Regions from separate parts of the Homo sapiens genome. Here regions 1 and 3 are each linked to region 2. The links come from fine-mapping of genetic effects on gene expression. A gene starts in region 2. Each other region holds a variant in brackets. All regions are shown on one strand. Distances are between the middles of the regions. Region 1 overlaps ERN1 (endoplasmic reticulum to nucleus signaling 1). Region 2 holds the start of ERN1 (endoplasmic reticulum to nucleus signaling 1). Region 3 overlaps ERN1 (endoplasmic reticulum to nucleus signaling 1).

Region 1 (2,844 bases), 77 kb before region 2:
TAACTTCTGGTTTCCAGGAAATACAAGGAATACAGAGAAATGTTCAACGCTGTCATGAGGAAAAAAGCAAACAAACCAGAATGGGGCATCCTATAACCCACTGCCTGGACTCTTCAAAATGGAACTTCAACATGGAACAAAATATAGGTGGAAAGATTTGTAAATTCCAAGAGACAGAATCAAATGTAACGCAAGACACCTGATTCCATCCTGGTATATAAAACCCAGTAGGTATCAAAACCCAGTAGGTAGCAAAATACCAACTCTATAAAAGACATTTGGGGACTAATTGGGGAAATTTGAATATGGATTGAATATGAGATGATGGATAGAAACAGTATTAACTGTTGAGGTGGGATAATGGTATTGTGGTTGGAAACACAATGTATTCCTTAGGAGACACGTGCTGAGGTCTTCAGGGATGAAGGGCCAGGATGCCTGCTACTTATATTCAAATGGTTCAGTAATAGGTAAAGATAAAGCAAATGTGGCAAAAGTATTAACAAATGTTGAATCTAGGTGGAGATACACAGGTATTCATGTTAACATTCTTTCAGCCAGATGCTGTGGCTCATGTCTGCAATCCCAGCACTTTGGGAGGCTAAGCCTGAGCCCAGGAGTTCAAGACCAGCCTGGGCAAAATAGCGAGATCGCACTTCTAAAAAATTTTTTTCTTTTAATTTTCTCTATGTCTAAAAATTATCAAAATAAGTTGAGAAAACAAAAACAAAATTTTAAAAATAATGAAAACTTGAAGTTTGCTCACGCTAAGCAAGCCCTGACTTCCCAGTTTACCAAAATTAAAAAGGGGTTAAAAAGTGATTGATTTAGCTGGGTGTGGTGGCAGGTACCTGTAATCCTAGCTACTCAGGAGGCTGAAGCAGGAGAATCGCTTGAACCTGGGAGGTGGAGATTGCAGTGAGCTGAGATCATGCCACTACACTCCAGCCTGGGTGACAGTAAGACTCTGTCACACAAAAAAAACAAAAAAACAGCCAACCAACCAAACAAAAAAAAAAAACAAGTGATTGGAAGAATAGGGAAAAAAAATAGATAATTGCCCACATTTGCCCCTTTAATCAGCTGAACATGAGATGACACAGAATGTTCACACAGAAGCTCTTGGTGAAAGGAATGCCATTCTCCAGCTACACGGGCACCAGCCCCCAAACCTGGAATTTAAAGGTTCTACTCCTGAAGATACAATGGGCTGGTTCTGTAGTTTTCAAAGGGCCATAGC[C/T]TATTACTCACAGGGTTCTCCTTACAGTCTTCGCTCAGCATCTCTGGAGCGATCCAGCCTTCTGTGCCAGGCACCCCAGATCGGCGGCTGAAACTGTGTCTGCCCACTGCCAGCTTCTTGCAGAGGCCAAAGTCGGAGATCATGGCCTTGATCTTGCCGTGTGCATTGGGCATGGATATGAGGATGTTGTGTGGCTTTAGGTCTCTGTGAACTAACAGAGAACTCCAGATTAGTCCAATGCTTACCAGGAGCAACCCCAGGCCTCCTCCAATGGGGAATGTGTCCTCGTCAGACTCCCAATATGCCTGCCGCCACCTCCAAATGTTCTGATTTTCAACTATGTCGGATTCCTCCTCAAATTCTTACACCACTCATCTTTGCTACTGGTGATATAGCCAAGAGCTTGAACAGAAGCAAGGCCCACCCGAGCTACTGGTTAGCCCCACCTGGGCCACTGATTCTCCCCACCCGGGCCGCTGGCCTGGTAAAGTGCAGCCTCTCACCGATGTTGAGGGAGTGGAGGTGGGCCAGGCCCGAGGTGGTCTGCTGCAGCAAGGTGATGGGCTCCAGGCCGAGATGCGCAAAGTCCTTCTGCTCCACATACTGCAAAAGACATGACAGCAAGGTCACGGCACACAGTCCTCAGGACTTGGCCCCTCGGCTCACTTTCTTTGATACCATTTTAAGAAAGAAATGGCAAGTTTTACTGACAACATTCTGTCTAAATCCATGTTTTCCAGCAAGGAGCAAACCTCCAAATCTACTAATTTACAATGAGAAAGATAAGAAGGCAAGAAACTCAAGTTCATTGCCTCATATAAGTAAACCTACAAAGGAATCCAAATGATACTGATATGGTTTCAAAGTGAGCCTGGAAAATGAGCAAAAGGAGCTTGCTGGATGATCTTAAAGCCTGGAGTTACCAACTGGCATCCTCCAAGCCCACACCAGCCATGACTGAAGAGGGAAAGAACAACTGTCCAGGTTTCCTGGAGGCAAAGAGGGAGAGACATGCCAACTGCAAGCAGACTGCCCAGGCATGCTGGGGGGACCACCCTGTTACAACCAGAGGGATAAAAATGCTCCACATTTTGACTGTGTATGTGGTTAAATGGGTATAGACATTTGTCAAAATTCATCAAGCTATTACATTTAAAATTAGTACAATTCACTGTAACTTTTTTTTAATTTGACGGGGTCTCACTCTGTTGTCCAGGCTGGAGTGCAGTGGCACAATCACTGCTTACTGCAGCCTTGATCTCCCAGGCTCAAGCAATCTTCCCACCTCAGCCTCCCAAGTAGCTGGGGCTACAGGAACACATCGCTAGGCCTGGCTAATTTTTGGTTTCTTTGTAGAGATGGGGTTTCACCATGTTGTCCAGGCTGGTCTCAAACTCCTGAGCTCACGTGATCTGCTCACTTTGGCCTCCCAAAGTGCTATGACTTTAATAAAGTTAACAAAATAAAAAAAATAAATCCACCTCTTGCAGGGTGGCTGCACACAGCTCGATGGCAATGTACTGGAATTGCCGGTCCTTCTCCGTGCAGAAGTAGCGGATCACGTTCGGGTGCTCATCCGATTCTCGCAACAGCTGGACCTCACG
Region 2 (2,500 bases):
AAACTTAACTTCCACAAGTTCTATTATAAAGAGTCTACAAATTTTCCTTTATTTAAAAAAAAAAACCCTGAATTTGAAAAAGGCAACCTTATTTATTTACTTCTCCTGTTTCCAAATTCTTGTTACTCCAAGAGTACAGACAGTTATTTACCTAAAATGCAAAACCTCCAAAGAGTTCACACGGTGGCTGGCACTCAGGCACACACATGTCAGTGCTCTACTGGGACACCTGGTACATGATATCCCTATTAAAGAGTACACAGTACCTTTAAAGAGGTCATTAAACAGAACACGGACAAATTTGCCACGCTCACATCCTGAACAATACATTTTGTGAAAAACATTCGCTAATTTAGGTTCTTCCAACCAGAAGAAAAAAAAAAGCCAAGTCTCCCACAAAGTGCCCCCAAATCCACAGCTGAGTGAAGGTCATAAAGAGTTAAATGAATGTAAACCAGGCCCTATCATTCGTCTCCTCCAGAAAAAGATGAAAAGACATTTCTGATGGCCCCAGGTGCTCTCCCACGAGGAGACAGTCTTTCATTTGAGGTTCTGAAGCGGCCTCACCTCGAACCCATGCGGGATCTTCCAAGAGTGCAATTCCCACAGCTCCACTTGCTCAAGGAAGTCTCGGTGCACAGAAGGAAGCCTGCAGCCTCCCAGTACCAAGAAACCGGCAGGGCAAGTGGCAGAAGCCAGCTCTCGGGTGAGAGTCCTTACTCCCTGTTGCATTCGTTCCCCAAAGTTTTCGAATTTTTAAAAAGTTCAAACAAGGATTCGAAGCGCAGGACAGACCCTTCCCCTGGATCCCAACGCCCTTTCGGCTCCTCCGCGGCCCCCGCCAGGCAGCGCCGGCGCCCGCCCGCGAGGAGGAGGGTCCCGCAGGTGGGCGGCCTCCTCAGGCCGGGGCCTTCTGGGACCCCCAAGTGCCGTGCAGGACGCCACGAAGTTGCGCCCGAGCCCGCGGGGTCCGGGGAGCCGCTGCCCGTGACAGCCGCGCTGGCTTGGGAGGCTCTTCGGGCGGCCGACGCCTCGGTGGGGCCGCGACTCCCGTCAGGGAAGCTCTCCCGGCCCGGTGCCGCCTCCTACGCCCGGCCCGAGCCTCCCACGGCTGGGCTCACGGGGCATCTGGCCGCCGCCGTCGCGCTCCCAGCTCGGACTCCAGCCCCGGCGCCGCGACGCTGCCCCGGCCCCGACCCGGCCGTCGCGAGCTGTCCTCCACCCCACGCTCCCCGGTCACTCACCCCGAGGCCGGGCAGCAGCAGCGTCAGCAGCAGCAGCAGCCGCCGGGCCGGCATGGCGAGGACTCGGCCCTGGCTCCGGGGGCGGTACGGACAGAGGACGGGGCGGGGGCGCCGCGACGACAGCGAGGCGGTGACCGAGCCTCAGCGGACGCAGAACTGACTAGGCAGCGGCGGCACCCCCATTCCCGGCCCTATAAGCGCTGGGTGCCGCGGCTTCTTCCGGTCGGGGCGGAGTTGCGGGCGGGGACGGGGCGGGGCCAATCTAGGGGCGTGTTCGGGGCGGAGATGGGGGCGGGCCGAGGGCGTGCCCCGGGCGGGGATGTGGGAGGGGCTGGCTCGGGGCGGGGCCGAAGGCGGTGCTGGCATCTGGCTGGCTTCGCTCATGAGGCGTCGGCGGCTGTAAAGGACCAGGCCTCGGCATCCAGCGTCTGGGGGCGCTGGGGGATCGAGGCGCGAAGCTTGTCTGTGGCTGGGAAAGACCGGCAATGCCCCACCAGGCCGTCCCATTAACCCTGCCGAGGGACCTGCCGCGTCAGACTTCATCGGGGAAAAGGGCGGGACACGGGCGGTCCCGGGTGCCTAGAAGCCTCCTTTTCGTCTTTCCGCCGTGGTGGAATCATCCGCAAGGTTTACCGAGGCGACCTCCGGAGCGAAGGTTTCAGCAGCTACCGGAGGCTTCCAGCAAACACGGCGCAGCTGCCCCGCGCGGCAGTCGCAGTGTTCACAGCCCTAGGGTTCTCCAGCTGTGCCTCGTCTTCTCTGGGGCCCCTTTCTTCCTTTTCCTTGCCCTCAGGAATTCCCCTCAAGTCATATCCACCAGCCATCACTTCCGCTTGGAATGAACCACGGCCAAGTCACTCACCAAAAATTATAAGGAGGAAACCATTTCGGCCACTTGTGTCACGTGCGTTGATGTGACACGTGTGGATGTGAAGTTTGAGATGGTCTGCGTCACAACTCGTTGGAGGGAGTGGGTGGGTTGAGGCCTCCTGCAAGGTCTATGTGAGGGTGTGGAGTACTAATTAGAGTTAAAGAGCTCGGCAGCTGTTTGGTCACTGGCACTGGCCTCCACTGAGAGGGACATGGGTAGGGAGGACACGTCTTTTGCAAGGAAAGACAGTAAACTGAGATTTGGAGCCCAGGGAAAGGTATCTAACTTATCCTAGGAGAAAAAGAAAACGGCTATGAAATTCTCTAATTTTTCCTGACTTGCTTATATGAGAGCCTAAGATTTTTCAGGTTTGAAGGAAAAGAAT
Region 3 (2,844 bases), 73 kb before region 2:
CCAACTTCCACAGAGGAAAGCAGACCAACTGTGACACTTCCACACTTGGCCACCGGCTGGCCCTGGGAACTCTCTTCAGCCCAATGGGCAGCTCACCTCTGGTCAGCCGCGACGCCCAGCCCTTGTGGAGAAAGACAGGAGGATGGCCAGGGTGGTTCCCAGAAGGCCCTCTGAAGGGGAGATGCCAAGGGATGGGGCAGAAGCCTTCCCACAGAGACCCCCAGAGTGGAAGTTAGAGGAGAACACAGTGAACCCCTGAGAATGGTAGTTTACAATCTTATGGAGACTCCTTGGACTTCTCAGGAGGTGCTCGAATAAAACATAAAATAGCACCAAGATGGCAACTGGCTTTACCTCCATCGTCTTGTTCCAGGGAGGGGCTGCTGCCAGCCTTGGAGGCAGAGCTGCCGGAGCAGAGCGAGTGGTTGGAGGCCCTGGGGGACGTGCTGGGGCTGCTGGTGCCCGAGCTCTCTGAGTACGGGCCAGACGTGTCCAGGAGCTCGCCGTCCTGAGCCGTGTCTCCAGGTGGGTGGAAGGGCAGCTGCTGCTGCTGCTGCTGCAGGAGCTGGATCTTCTCCAGTTCCTTCTGGAACTGCTGGTGCTGGAGCTGCTGCTGCTGATGCATGCTCTGGGAAGAGAAACCCACATCCAGACAAGGGCAGCTGTTCCCACAGGGAAACAAGCAGCTGGGAAGGGACAGGTCCCAGTGGCGGAGGGAGCATGTGTACTTTATGTGACCCAACAGGGCACAAAGAGACCAGTGAGAAGGCACCTGGAAGCAGAATTGCTTCGATGACTGGACGTCTTTCCACCGACTAGTTAGATCCTTGCTCATACAGCCCACTCCCCAACCCTAGGAGGGGCTGGATGGCCACCAGGGGAGGGACTGTGCCCTAGGTTGAGGGCTGTGCCAGTTTCATTCAGTTCTAAAATTCTGTGATTTTCATGAAAGTCTGAGAGTTGTTGCAAAGGTGAAACCAAACAGGAAGCACAGGTAGCATGGCTGAGCCAGTGGTGGGTGAGAGCAAGCCCCAGGTTCGCCACCCACCGTGTCTGTGTGTTGGCTAGAGGCTAGCGCACAGACACTCAGTAATCCAGAGGGGCAGGTGAGGAAGCTCTAGTATTCTAGGTATGCAGAGTACATCTGCATACACATAGCCAGGAGGTGGCAGTGGGGCTGACACATGGTGAGCCTG[G/A]CTGAGGTCCTGCTTCCGCCTTTCATCCCACTGCCTTCCCCGAGGCCACATGCCTCTCAAATACTCTGAAGGATTCATTCTGTCATTATCTGAAGTAGCAGCGATCTGTGATCATCCCTACCCATGTGCAGGAGGTGGACTGAAGGGACTTCTGTGAGCCACCAACCCACCAGGGAGTCGTCTCTTCTTCTCTCCACCATGGGGTGGAGTCCTAGAAATGCCGTCTACTAGCTGGGTACCCGTGGGGAAAGTTACTTAGCTTCTCAGGGTCTACTTCCTTCTTTTGTGGACAAGGGATCAATAATAATGACCTCATAGGACTGAGTGAGGTGAAAAGTGAAACTATCAGGTGCAGACGTGCCAGTGGGGAGTGCCATAAAGAGTCTGTCATTCCCATTCCTGGGCGGGTCATTAGCTTCCTGAGCTCTCAGGTAACAGCATCTCGATGCTCTGAGCAACCTGCTGAAGGACCATGCCCCTCACATATTTCATCCCACCCATGGCCTGTTCTGCTACAGAACTTGCTCATTTCCAACTAGGAAGTAAAGGGATGGCCACACTGCCTTTTTCACACAAGCTGATCTCACAGGCAGCTTCTTTTTTCTTTTTTTGGTTCTTCTCCCCAGCAGAAGTTCTAATGGCAGTTTTTAAGGGAGGAAAGGTCTTCATCTATTATCCTTATTCTTTAAAAATACAGATAACTATTCAAAATCATCTTTGAGCAAGGCTTATAAATCAGCTCTTAGCTGAAAAACACTAAGATTTAGGAACAAAATTGTCCTTTTCTGGGAGGCTAGTGTCTCTTTAATTATGTTTTTGAAGATAAACAAACACTGACTTTTTTTTTCTTTTTTTTTGAGATGGAGTCTTGCTCTGTCGCCTTGCTCTGTCGCCCAGGCTGGAGTGCAGTGGTGTGATCTCAGCTCACTATAAGCTCCGCCTCACGGGTTCACGCCATTCTCCTGCCTCAGCCTCCAGAGTGGCTGGGACTACAGGCCCCTGCCACCATGCCCGGCTAATTTTTTGTATTTTTAGTAGAGACAGGGTTTCACTGTGTTAGCCAGGATGGTCTTGATCTCCTGACCTTGTGATCCACCCGCCTCGGCCTCCCAAAGTGCTGGGATTACAGGCGTGAGCCACTGTGCCCGCCCGGCCAACAAACACTGACTTTTAAATGGGGAAAGAAATGTGCTGGTTGTTTTTGTCTGGATCTCACTGACATGAGGCGACAGGCAGAGAAGCCCCAGAAATAGGTGGATGGCAAAGGGGAATTGTTGAGCTTTACCAGGGGATAGGTGATGATGAAGGCCACCCAGCCAATCAGCAGGAAGGTGCTCAGGATGATGGTAGCCATGTCCTTAAGCATGGAGTCCACGGGGGCCTCGGGCCGGGCAGGGGCATGGGCGGGCTTCTCCTCCACATCCCGAGACACGGTGGTAGGTGCGTTTTCTGAAGTCTGGTCAACCAGGTTGATAACCTTGCATGGGAGAGAGTTGCGACATCACTGCAAAATTTCTAGCCAGATACAGATGAGGCCAGCAATCAAGAGAAGCAATCACTGTTTACAAGGATATGACTGTACTGCAGGGGGTTTTATTTGTTTTAAGCTCACCAAAGATCATGTAGCCAGATAACTGTTGCCTCTTTC

Evidence for each region.
Region 1: its variant is fine-mapped to the expression of ERN1 in whole blood (TOPMed, PIP above 0.99).
Region 3: its variant is fine-mapped to the expression of ERN1 in whole blood (INTERVAL, PIP 0.96).

Annotation. Positions count from the first base shown.
Region 1 is chr17:64,051,529-64,054,372 of GRCh38, forward strand. ERN1 (endoplasmic reticulum to nucleus signaling 1) reads right to left here. Exons shown (of 22, transcript NM_001433.5): 15 at 2,722-2,844; 16 at 1,744-1,843; 17 at 1,252-1,451. Among named protein-coding and RNA genes, the nearest start is that of ICAM2, 32 kb to the left of the region's middle. The variant C/T (reference allele first, on the strand shown) is at 1,241.
Region 2 is chr17:64,128,732-64,131,231 of GRCh38, forward strand. It overlaps ERN1 (endoplasmic reticulum to nucleus signaling 1), which reads right to left and starts at 1,413. Exons shown (of 22, transcript NM_001433.5): 1 at 1,245-1,413. The coding sequence starts at 1,298. RefSeq lists silencers at 924-1,373, 1,464-1,593 and enhancers at 2,014-2,213, 2,264-2,313.
Region 3 is chr17:64,055,321-64,058,164 of GRCh38, forward strand. ERN1 (endoplasmic reticulum to nucleus signaling 1) reads right to left here. Exons shown (of 22, transcript NM_001433.5): 12 at 2,482-2,673; 13 at 355-628. Among named protein-coding and RNA genes, the nearest start is that of ICAM2, 36 kb to the left of the region's middle. RefSeq lists enhancers at 1-680, 681-1,424, 1,213-1,332 and a silencer at 1,643-1,692. The variant G/A (reference allele first, on the strand shown) is at 1,197.